4 separate regions of the Homo sapiens genome follow, and all the other regions are linked to region 1. The links come from fine-mapping of genetic effects on gene expression. A gene starts in region 1. Each other region holds a variant in brackets. All regions are shown on one strand. Distances are from middle to middle.

Region 1 (2,688 bases):
TAAAACTCAGTCTTCTTCAGGTTATACTCCCAGCTAACTTACTTTGGGACACGTTCTCGGTCTATACTGAGTCTGTGTTCCCAGGCTTAAGTCCTCAAACTTGGCCGAGTAATAAAACTAACCATGATTTCTTTAAGTTTTAGTACCTGTTATTTCACCTTTCGGTCGACAAATCGTTTTTCTCATGTTCCTCTGTCTTACATCAATTTAATTTGTAGACCAGCCAAATGACCTAAAAGGCTAGAAGGAAACAATTTTTCCTCCCCTACAACTATTTCCTCTAGTCCTCCGGCTGAAAGTTGTTCCACGTCCTGGGCAGAGAGAGCCCCACCAGGCAGCACCACCAGCTCCACAGAGTTGGAGCGATTCCCCCAAGAAGCTCCCCTGCGCCCCTCCTCACCCCCAGAGACCAGCAGAAGAAATGGCATCTATCCCTTGGAAGACACTAGGCAGGAGAGAACAACTGCAAGCCCTTCTGCTCACACAGAAAAAAGGATGGCGGAGGTGGCGAATGGGATGTAGCAGAAACCCCGCGGCTGCGGCGGAAGGGACACCGCCCCTCTCCAGCCTAACTCTGAGCCATCTTCCCCCTGTTGTTATAGCACTTAGAACGGACGCCACTGCGCAGGTCACACCGTGCCGCGCAGCCTTCTGGGGGTCGGAGTCCAGAGGGGCTGAGGCGCGAAGGCGGAGACCGACTTCTTAGCGGGCCGCAGTTGGAATTAGATTTCTACTGGGGCGGGGCTCGAGCGAACCACGGCCTAATCCTCATTAGCAGAGAAGGATAATTACCGCAATACTCTGCCCTGCCCTGACAGCAGCTCGTGAGACCCTGAGTCTGCTGAAGGCCGCCTCCAGCCTGGGCTCCGGGCACAGGCCACACCCCTCCCGCCGCGTCCTGGCCTCTCCCATCGATGGCGTGTGGGTGGGGCTTCGTGGGGGCGGAGCTGCGCGGGGCGGGGCGTCGCTGCGCGGGGCGGGGCGTCGCGGGCTCGTCCGTGATGCTCTGGGATCCCGCGCTTCCGAGACTCGCAGTCTACGCGAGCTGCCTGTTTTTTTCCTGCTTGGACGCGCATGAGGGCCCCGTCCATGGACCGCGCGGCCGTGGCGAGGGTGGGCGCGGTAGCGAGCGCCAGCGTGTGCGCCCTGGTGGCGGGGGTGGTGCTGGCTCAGTACATATTCACCTTGAAGAGGAAGACGGGGCGGAAGACCAAGATCATCGAGATGGTGAGTGTGGAGGCTCGGCGCGCCCAGAGCACGCGAGGGGCCGGCTGGGCCGTCCGCTGGCCTCGGCAGCCTGTGCTGGGCCGCTGTTCGGTCGCGACGGGGAGCTGCCGGCGTCGCCTGTCAGGCTGGGATCTCGCTAGCTCGGGACGCGCAGCTTGGGGGACCCGGCCGCCCCGCGTGCGGCCACTCCGCGGGCTTGGTGACCAGGGTTGGGTCCCCGGCTGCGGCCCTTGGCTGCCCGTGGTCTTTGTTAGGTTTCCGTTTGAAGGAACAAGGCAGAAAATAGATGAATCGGACACAGGCTACTTTGTGCTGCAAAACCCGTTTCTCTAGAGATAAGCTGCATGTCCTGGGCAGGTGGCTCCTTCTCTCCCTGCCTTGCTCCCGCCCTCCCCCCGGATCCGCGTCAAACCGTTGCCGCTAATCTAGTTGCAATTCCCGCAGAGGACTAGTTTTATGTTGGGGCTGCCGTGAGTTAGATTATGAAAATGTGCAATATCTAAAATTTTACAAGAATGGCAATCCAGGAGAAATTCAGGATAGTTTATTTTGTATTTGAATGTATTCCTTCTTGTCTCAAAACTCCCACGAAATATCTTTGTTTTCATCTTAACTCCCAAAGCTCTTGTATACATTTTCGAATTTAATTTTTTATTGAAGAGGGTGTCTCAAGAATTCCCTTTGAGATACATTATAAGTAATTGTTTCAAAAATGAGGATATTTAGTTTCGTTTTGTATTTTAATTAGAACCCACTCAGGAAGACAATTCTTGCACAAACTTGCACGCTTATGTATTTCCTGAAATGCATAATCCTGGGTATACGCCTGACCGTGTGCTATACATGTGAACATCTAGGGTCAGATGATTTATGATAGAAAAAAATTTAAAATCTACACTAAATAATATCATTTTAGGGTGTAATACTTGGAATTTCTGAGCACCTGCAATATGTTCCAACTGACGAAAGACACGATTTGTCCTATTGGTTGTACTGACCCCAGGTTGAATACAGATGTATTTGCATAATTAAAATTAGCCAGTGTCCCAGCTATTTGGGAGGCTGAGAGGAAGATCACTGGAGTCTGGGAGTTCAAGGTTATAATCACACCTGTGGATAGCTACTGCACTCCAGCCTGGGAAACATAGCGAGACCCTGTCTCTTAAAAAAAAAAGTTAATTCCCACTTGTCTCATATTCCAATAATATTCCCTAATTTTGAATTAATTTATTCTTAAAGGGTCTTAATAATTCTAAAGGCTTATTAAAATTCATTTGTCCCACATCTGTATGCCCACAGCAGCAAATGGTTTTAACTCAGAAGTTTCATTTTGCTTTTGTTGCTTTCCTGCTTAGAAAACTTGGCTTTCTTTTGCCCAAGGTTAATAATGCCTATGTAGGGGAAAAAACCGAGTTGCCATATCTCCCTGCCTGTGCTTAAACTATGGATTGGTCTGTATAC
Region 2 (2,688 bases), 48 kb after region 1:
AGCCCCTCAGGTAGCTGGAACTACAGGCGCACACCACTACACCTGGCTGATTTTTAAATTTTTTTTAGAGATGAATTCTCCCTGTGTTGCCCAAGCTGGTCTCAAACTCCTGGGCTCAAGTGATTCTCCAGGCCTCTCAAAGTGCTTGGGATAACAGGCGTGAGCCACTATGCCCAGCCAAAACATATTGTGATCATGCATTTTGATTGTTCTTTATACTGGTGATGTTTAAAAAGGAGCTGAGATGCATGCTATAGGTACTGGGAAAAGGGAGGATGTGTATTCTGTAGGAGGCCTCTGTGTCTTCTGCCCACTAGATGCTGGATAGCAGTCTCCTGCCATGAGACTCAAAAATGTCCCTAGACGTTACTAAATGTTCCGTGGACAAAAATCACCCCATTTGAAAGCCACTGGACTGGAGAGAGAGCATTTTGGGGAGAAAAGCTACCATGTGGAAAAATGTCTGTCAGTGGGTCTTAAGGATTTGAAAATATTTCTTCATTTCAAAGATTTTTTGAAAGTGAATTTAATTTATTGCATTTTGCCCAAGAGATCTAACAACGAGATTCATACTGAAATTATTTGTTTCTTTGCCCTGCATGTTAATTTTCTTTTGTTCATCTCTTGATTAGGTGGATGAGCTTTTAGAAAAGTACATGGACTCTTATGATATTGTTTTAGTACAAGATGAATCATTAGAAGTAGCCAACTCTATTTTACAGAAGATTCTATAAACAAGCATTCTCCAAGAAGACCTCTCTCCTGTGGGTGCAATTGAACTGTTCATCCGTTCATCTTGCTGAGAGACTTATTTATAATATATCCTTACTCTCGAAGTGTTCCCTTTGTATAACTGAAGTATTTTCAGATATGGTGAATGCATTGACTGGAAGCTCCTTTTCTCCACCTCTCTCAACACACTCCTCACCGTATCTTTTAACCCATTTAAAAAAAAAAAAAAGC[T/C]AAAATTAGAAAAATAACTCCCTACTTTTCCAAAGTGAATTTTGTAGTTTAATGTTATCATGCAGCTTTTGAGGAGTCTTTTACACTGGGAAAGTTTGTAGAAATTTTAAAATAAGTTTTATGAAATGGTGAAATAATATGCATGATTTTAAGTATTGCCATTTTTGTAATTTGGGTTATTATGCTGATGGTATCACCATCTCTTGAAATTGTGTTAGGTTTGGTTATTTTGTCTGGGGAAAAAATATTTACTGGAAAAGACTAGCAGTTAGTGTTGGAAAAACCTGGTGGTGTTTACAATGTTGCTAATCATTACAAAACATTCTATATTGAAGCACTGATAATAAATATGAAATGCAAAACCTTTTTAATTCTATGGTCAAAACTATCTTTACTGAGTCAACAAATATTTATTGAGCACCTACCATGGTTTTTTGTTTTCTTCTTGTTTCTTTCTCTCCGTCTGCCTGTCTTTTGTGATATATAAATTCTAAAGTCCTTGTCATAGTGGCTATTTAGATTGAATATTTTCAGAAATTATTTAAGTCTAAAGATATTTCAGGGAAAATTTTGTCTGCCCTTCAGAAAATACTGAGACCTCTGAAAATTATTTTCTCCCATTTAAAACATCAGTAAAAGGTACAAGTCTGCAAGTTTCAGAAGCCGAGACAGGAAGCAGTGGAGCTGGGTCTCGTGGTGACTGAATCTGAGCAGCACTGCGACATTAGGAGCCAGCATCTCTCTGTACAGTCCAGCTACCCACTCCACATCTCTGGCTCTGCCTCATCATTCATCTTCAGGATTTAGACCTGCCATTGTGATCAATTTGACCGTGATTCTTACCCTTAATTCCAGATCCTATGAACACCTAATTGGTTTGCTTATATAAGCACCTGAGCTATGATACACACAAAGCATGATCTGATTCATTCTGGCCATCCAGTGTGAGCAGCAGTCTCTAGTTCAGTCAGATGTGGCTGGAAGGCAAGGTCACATGTTAGGAAACCTTTTTGTCCTGGGAATGCCCATCCTTATCCTCCCCCACCACTCCTTTTCATCATCATAAGCAATGAAGCAGGCCAGGCACGGAGGCTCACACCTGTAATCCCAGCACTTTGGGAGGCCAAGGCGAGTGGATCGCTTGAGCCTAGATGTTTGAGATCAGCCTGGGCAACATAGGGAGACCCCAGTCTCTACAAAAAATTAGCCAGGCATGGTGATGCACCTGTAGTCCCAGCTACACAGGAGGCTGAGGTGGGAGAATCACCTGAGCCTGGGGAGGTTGAGGCTGCAGTGAGCTGTGATTGCACCACTGCACTCCAGGCTGGTCAACAGAGCAAGAACTTATCTCAAAAAAGCATAAAAATAATGAGGCCAGGTGCAGTGGCTCACATCTGTAATCCCAGCATTCTGGGAGGCCAAGGCGGAGTTCAAGACCAGCCTGGGCAACATGGCAGGACTCAGTCTCTACTAAAAATACAAAAAATTAGCCAGGCATGATGGTGCGCACCTGTGGTTCCAGGTACTCAGGAGGCTAAGGTAGGAGGATTGCTAGAGCCCGGGGGGCCAATGCTTGCAGTGAGCTGAGATCATGCCCCTGTACTCCAGCCTGGGTGACAGAGCAAGACCTCATCTCAATAAATAAACAATGAAACAAAAATGCAATGGCAAAAGGCAGACTAGACCCTGCCTAAGTGTTTCTAAAATCAAACTGAAAATAACTTC
Region 3 (2,688 bases), 44 kb after region 1:
ATTATTGCTATTTATGTAGTCAGTTGTACTTTTTAAAAATAAGATTGAATATTCCTTATATAACCATATCCAAAATATGCCACCTATCACAAAATACATAGTGGTAAGATAAGGAATTTAGAATGACGTATTAGATCTTGGTGTAGGTAGTAAGAGCCTTATGAGATTTAAATTCTAATTTGTATTTTGTTTCTCCAGATTAAAAATGTCAAGACTTAAAATTTTTGAACCAAGGCCATTTAAAAATTTTTTAGCAAAATACTTAGGAAAGACATATGAAAGGAATGTATAAATCAAGTTAAAAGGGATTTAAGTATACTTTTTTTTTTTTTTAAAGACAGGGTCTCTCTCTGTTGCCCAGGTTAGAGTGTAGTGACATAATCTCTTCCTCAGTTCAACCTCTGCCTCCTGGGCTCAAGCGATCCCCTTGCCTCAGCCTCTCAAGTAGCTGGGACTACAGTCATGCACCACCATGCCTGGCTAATTTTTGTATATTTTTGTAAAGATGGGATTTCACCATGTTGCCCAGACTGGTCTTGAACTCTTGAGCTCAAGCGATCCCAAAGTGCTGGGATTATATGTGTGAGCCACCATGCCTGGCAGTATACTATGTCTAAATTTACATAAGCCTACTTTTTAAATTCTCGAACTTCTTTGAAAACTATTCCTAGGAAAGATTAGTATGTTTTAGTACATAATTATATATGTATGCATGAGTTATAAGATACAAGAAGCTTTTTTTTTTCTTTTTTTTTTGAGATGGAGTCTCGCTCTGTCACCCAGGCTGGAGTGCAGTGGTGTAAGCTCCGCCTCCCAGGTTCACGCCATTCTCCTGCCTCAGTCTCCTGACTAGCCAGGACTTCAGGCGCCCGCCACCACGCCCGGCTAATTTTTTGTATTTTTAGTAGAGACGGGGTTTCACCGAGTTAGCCAGGATGGTCTCGATCTCCTGACCTTGTGATCTGCGCATCTCCGCCTCCCAAAGTGCTGGGGTTACAGGCGTGAGCCACTGCGCCCGGCCCAAGAGCCTGTTTAATACTGTTTATTACCTCGTAAAATTTTCAACTCATTAGGCAAATATGATGATGTTACTTTTTTATGATGATGTTATATTTTAAGGTGATTACTTCTAAAAAGGAAAGCAATAAATTGTCAGAAAAAGTGTGAGGACAGCTAGTAAGTGTTTCATTCCTTAGTAGGCAACATTAGCATTCTTTAACCTATGGCCCAGGAAGGGTAAAAAAGGGAAGAGGGCTTAAGATCTTAGTAAAGACACATGCCAGATGTCGAGAATACATCTAAGTTCCTGCCACTCTGCTTTTCTTTTCAATTTTATGGATTTTGATGAAACTGTAAGAATATCAAGTCATTCTTCATAATTTTAAAATCTGAAAATATTTTAATCATGTAAATGTATTTGTTGTTGGTCAATATATATCCATTAAGTTAGGCCAA[G/A]TTGATAGGCCCACTATGGGACTCCATCCTTCTCAGTGTTAATATATCCATGTTTTAACCCCTAAGTGGGGTTTTCAAGGTGTAGCTTAACTATTGTTTTCTCTTTTTAAATTTCATTTTAGAGACAGGGTCTCGCTATGTTGCCCAGAGTGGACTAGAACTCCTGGGCTCAAGCAATCCTCAAGCCTCAGCCTCCCAAATAGCTGGGACTATAGGCATGCACTGCTATGCCTGCCTATTTCTTTTTAAATGGTATAAATTGTGAACTGTAGGTTTATATTCATATTCAGTGAAAGCTTAAAGACATCTAGTTTGTAGTATTAGAATTGATTAAAGGGAAAGTAAAGAGTTAACTGTTGTTTGAAAAACTTGTAGTATTGTAGATATCAATAACAGCCCTCTTGGGCAGTATATTGAAATGAGAATATGAGTGAGCCATAGAATTACTAGGAATATTTCACTTTTTTAGCTTCTAAGTAAAAAGGAACTATATCTTGCTCTTTAATAACCAGTTTGTTATCTCCATCTTACAGAGAAGGATATGAGAATTTCTTTGATAAGCTCCAACAACATAGCATCCCCGTGTTCATATTTTCGGCTGGAATCGGCGATGTACTAGAGGAAGTTATTCGTCAAGCTGGTGTTTATCATCCCAATGTCAAAGTTGTGTCCAATTTTATGGATTTTGATGAAACTGTAAGAATATCAAATCGTTCTTCATAATTTTAAAATCTGAAAATATTTTAATCATGTAAATTTATTTATTGTTACTTAATATATATCCTATATCCAGAAATTAGGCCAAGCCGATAGGCCCACTGTGGGACTCCATCCTTCTCAGTGTTAATATATCCATATTTTAAAAACAATGTGCCCTTCTTAAACTTTCATTCCCCAAGCTATAGACTAATAATAAAAGTAGTAAAACTTCTTCTTTTTTTTTTTTTTTTTTGAGATGGAGTCTCACTCTGTTGCCCAGGCTGGAGTGCAGTAGCACAATCTCAGCACATTGTAACCTCTGTCTCCTGGGTTCAAGCAATTCTTCTGCCTCAGCCTCTCGAGTAGCTGGGATTACAAGCGTCTGCCACCACACCCGGCTAATTTTTGTATTTTTGGTAGAGATAGGGTTTCACCATGTTGGCCAGGTTGGTCTCGAACTCCTGACCACAAGTTATCCTCCCACCTTGGCCTCCCAAAGTGCTGGGATTACAGGCATGAGCCACCACACATAGC
Region 4 (2,688 bases), 23 kb after region 1:
TAACTTTGTATTAAAATAGAATATACAGAAAAGTTCACATATCAGAAGTACACTGACAAACCACTGACAAACCAGGTGGAAAGGAATGTTTTTAAGTGTTAGTGTAGAGGTTCCTCTTTTCTTTCCAGAGCCAGTTGCCAGTTCTAATAGTACAGATTTACCTTCTCTTTAATCGTCACATAACTTCAATTGATAATGTTATGTAGATTGACTTGTGACTAGCTCAGAGCTAGCGAGGCTGTAACCAAGAGCATATATAAAGTACTGTGCAGCAGTGCGTCACAAGGTTTTTGCATAGGGCTTAGTCAAGGCTTTTGGAACCGCCCTCAGTTGCACCTTGTGCTATATTAGTACTTCTCAGACAGGAAGAATTTTCTTTTGCTGGTGTAGCTCGTCCGGTTACCTTCAGGGTAAGTGTGTACGGTTCATGTAAATGAGTTTCTCTTGTCTAACTTTATGTGATTCTTATTTGATTCTATAACTTACTGAAATTTTGGGCATTTTGAAATACAAACTTAGGAAATAAAATAATGTTCCAGTATAATGCAAAACTTCTTTATAATTTGTGAAGAAATGAATGTGCAAAACTTTGAAGAGTCTTAGGTCTCAGAAATTACATTTTATATGTTCTAATTTTAAGAGCTTCTTGTTTCACCTGTAGATGTTGAGAAAAAGCAAAGTACCTTCAGAAGTCTCTTTCCAGGTTGAGGGGAAACACTCTAAGATTCAATTTGGTTGTTCATTCAGTTGGCTATGTGACTCAGTTTTACTGACAGCCACAAGCTTTGTGTTACTAGGATTAGGAACAGTTATTATGGGTAGTAATAAAGATTATCAATTTTTATTTTGTGCATGTGAGCTTTACCCAGGATTTTATAGAATGGGATTATCACTGGTATGTTTTATGAATTGATAAAAGCTAGATTACTGATTTATAACAAATTATATATTGAAAATTAAGATTCAAAAATTTATATTACAGTAAAAGCCTAGAATATTATGGCTAAGTTATATTTAAATAATTGAATTATCTATATTTTATAGGTTTTTTTTTCCTTTAAATCAGAGAAGTTAGATCATGCTGCAGATCATTTCTTAAAGCAGTTTGCTTAGTTTTTATTGGCAGCCTGCATCCAAGCCCGGCATCTCTGGGTAGTGCTTGTCACCTATGCTGTTGTCCTAGGACAAATTCAAGGACAGAAGAACTCAGGGTGTCTTAAGGGTTGTCAGTATAAATTACTTAGTTTCCATGTGCTGT[A/G]TGTGGTTTACTTATCTTGAAAAAATGCTATTAGATATTAGAGGTAGTGAATGTGGGAAGGATAGAGGAATAAATTCTAAACATTGAAATTGTTTATTTGCATAAATATCCACAAAATTCTGACTCAGTAGCTGCTTTACCATTTGGGAAAATTGGTTAAAATTGCCCATTTTTAAATAACTAGCTTTTGAAATCTGTTTTTTCCTCTTTCCTCCTATATCTCTTCTACCCCTCCCACTCTTTGCTATTTAGTTTCATTTTTGTTTTATGCCTGTATTGAGAAAGTTTCACTTTGCAGCGTGTGTGTTTCTTTTTCCCCACCGCTGAGTTGAAAATCTAATTAGGAAGAATTATTTAAATGCCCCACCAAATTATTACAGCCATACAGAAAAGATGAAGTTACAGTTTGATTTTGCATGTGCTAATCACCCGAAGACAGTAACATTAAAAAAAAAAAAAAACAAAAAACCCAAGCTTAAGAAAGTCAAATAGTACAGGTTACTGAAAAAGTATAGGAAAAATTGATGTTTGGTACTGTTGCGGATACTGTGTCCATATTATGGTAATATATGCCTTTTCTTATGTGAGTAATACACAGTTTAGCATTCACAATTTTATTACCTTATCAATGTAGTTTACATGTTTCTGCGAGTATCACAATTAAAGCAGTCACAGTTTTTAAAGCTATATTCATGAATTTAATCTTTTTCACTTTCCTGTAAGACAGAGTCAAGTAGACCTTTAAAAGTAATCAGTTTGCATTCAGGTACTTTAAGACTTGCTTTAAATCAGGTAATTTTTTTTCATGTAGACATACCAATCAATTTTCATTAATTGACTTGTAAACTATCATCAGAATGAAATACTGTGATAACTAAAGTTTTCAGTTATCAAGTTTGTGTTAAGTGAAGTTCTTACCTCTTGCTTCAGTCTTTAGACTTGTCCTACATATTCCTTGTAAAGAACTCTGCTATAGTAGAGACCTTAATCTCATACAAAAAGCACACAAAGTAATTATTTTCCAGTTTCCACATTTTCCAGTTCACATTTAAAGACTCTGAAGACTTAAAATGTTAAAACTTCCTTTGAAGAGAGTTCGTAGATCAAGGGCAGTATTTTCTATTTTTGAACACGTCTTCTACACTTGATGTGTTTTTTCCAGCAACTCTTCTCTTGAAGCATCTGCAACAGATGACCATTGGCAAAGTAAGCCAGAACTTTATATACCAGGTATAGGTTTACAAGCCTATTGGTTTAAAAATACTCTGCCCTAATTTTCAGTGTCTTCCTTAGAATAGTGCCAGAATGCTGACATTTTACACCTGAGTCTTTACACTTTTTAAATGATAAGACCTTAGAGTAATTTTTGTATAAGGACTGCAGTATCACTTTATGTGAGATTATCTTTGAACAAAGATAAATTCTGGTCA

Alleles and levels. Positions count from the first base shown, and alleles are read on the strand shown. Sizes are in standard deviations (SD) of each study's normalised expression. Not every link is listed here.
With allele C in place of T in region 2, the expression in putamen of the gene that starts at base 1,019 in region 1 is lower (moderate effect, 0.43 SD a copy in GTEx).

The links. PIP is the estimated chance that this variant, and not a neighbour inherited with it, causes the effect.
Region 2: its variant is fine-mapped to the expression of NT5C3A in putamen (GTEx, PIP 0.90).
Region 3: its variant is fine-mapped to the expression of NT5C3A in whole blood (INTERVAL, PIP above 0.99).
Region 4: its variant is fine-mapped to the expression of NT5C3A in whole blood (INTERVAL, PIP 0.90).

Annotation. Positions count from the first base shown.
Region 1 is chr7:33,061,107-33,063,794 of GRCh38, reverse strand. It overlaps NT5C3A (5'-nucleotidase, cytosolic IIIA), which reads left to right and starts at 1,019. Exons shown (of 9, transcript NM_001002010.5): 1 at 1,019-1,227. The coding sequence starts at 1,090. It overlaps LOC124901610 (a long non-coding RNA gene), which reads right to left and starts at 610. Exons shown (of 4, transcript XR_007060279.1): 1 at 147-610. RefSeq lists an enhancer at 505-664 and silencers at 905-1,024, 1,325-1,384.
Region 2 is chr7:33,012,776-33,015,463 of GRCh38, reverse strand. It overlaps NT5C3A (5'-nucleotidase, cytosolic IIIA), which reads left to right. Exons shown (of 9, transcript NM_001002010.5): 9 at 633-1,334. The coding sequence ends at 734. Among named protein-coding and RNA genes, the nearest start is that of NT5C3A, 49 kb to the left of the region's middle. The variant T/C (reference allele first, on the strand shown) is at 964.
Region 3 is chr7:33,016,902-33,019,589 of GRCh38, reverse strand. NT5C3A (5'-nucleotidase, cytosolic IIIA) reads left to right here. Exons shown (of 9, transcript NM_001002010.5): 7 at 1,989-2,151. Among named protein-coding and RNA genes, the nearest start is that of NT5C3A, 45 kb to the left of the region's middle. The variant G/A (reference allele first, on the strand shown) is at 1,456.
Region 4 is chr7:33,038,594-33,041,281 of GRCh38, reverse strand. All of the region lies in intron 1 of NT5C3A (5'-nucleotidase, cytosolic IIIA), which reads left to right. Among named protein-coding and RNA genes, the nearest start is that of NT5C3A, 23 kb to the left of the region's middle. RefSeq lists a silencer at 255-354. The variant A/G (reference allele first, on the strand shown) is at 1,259.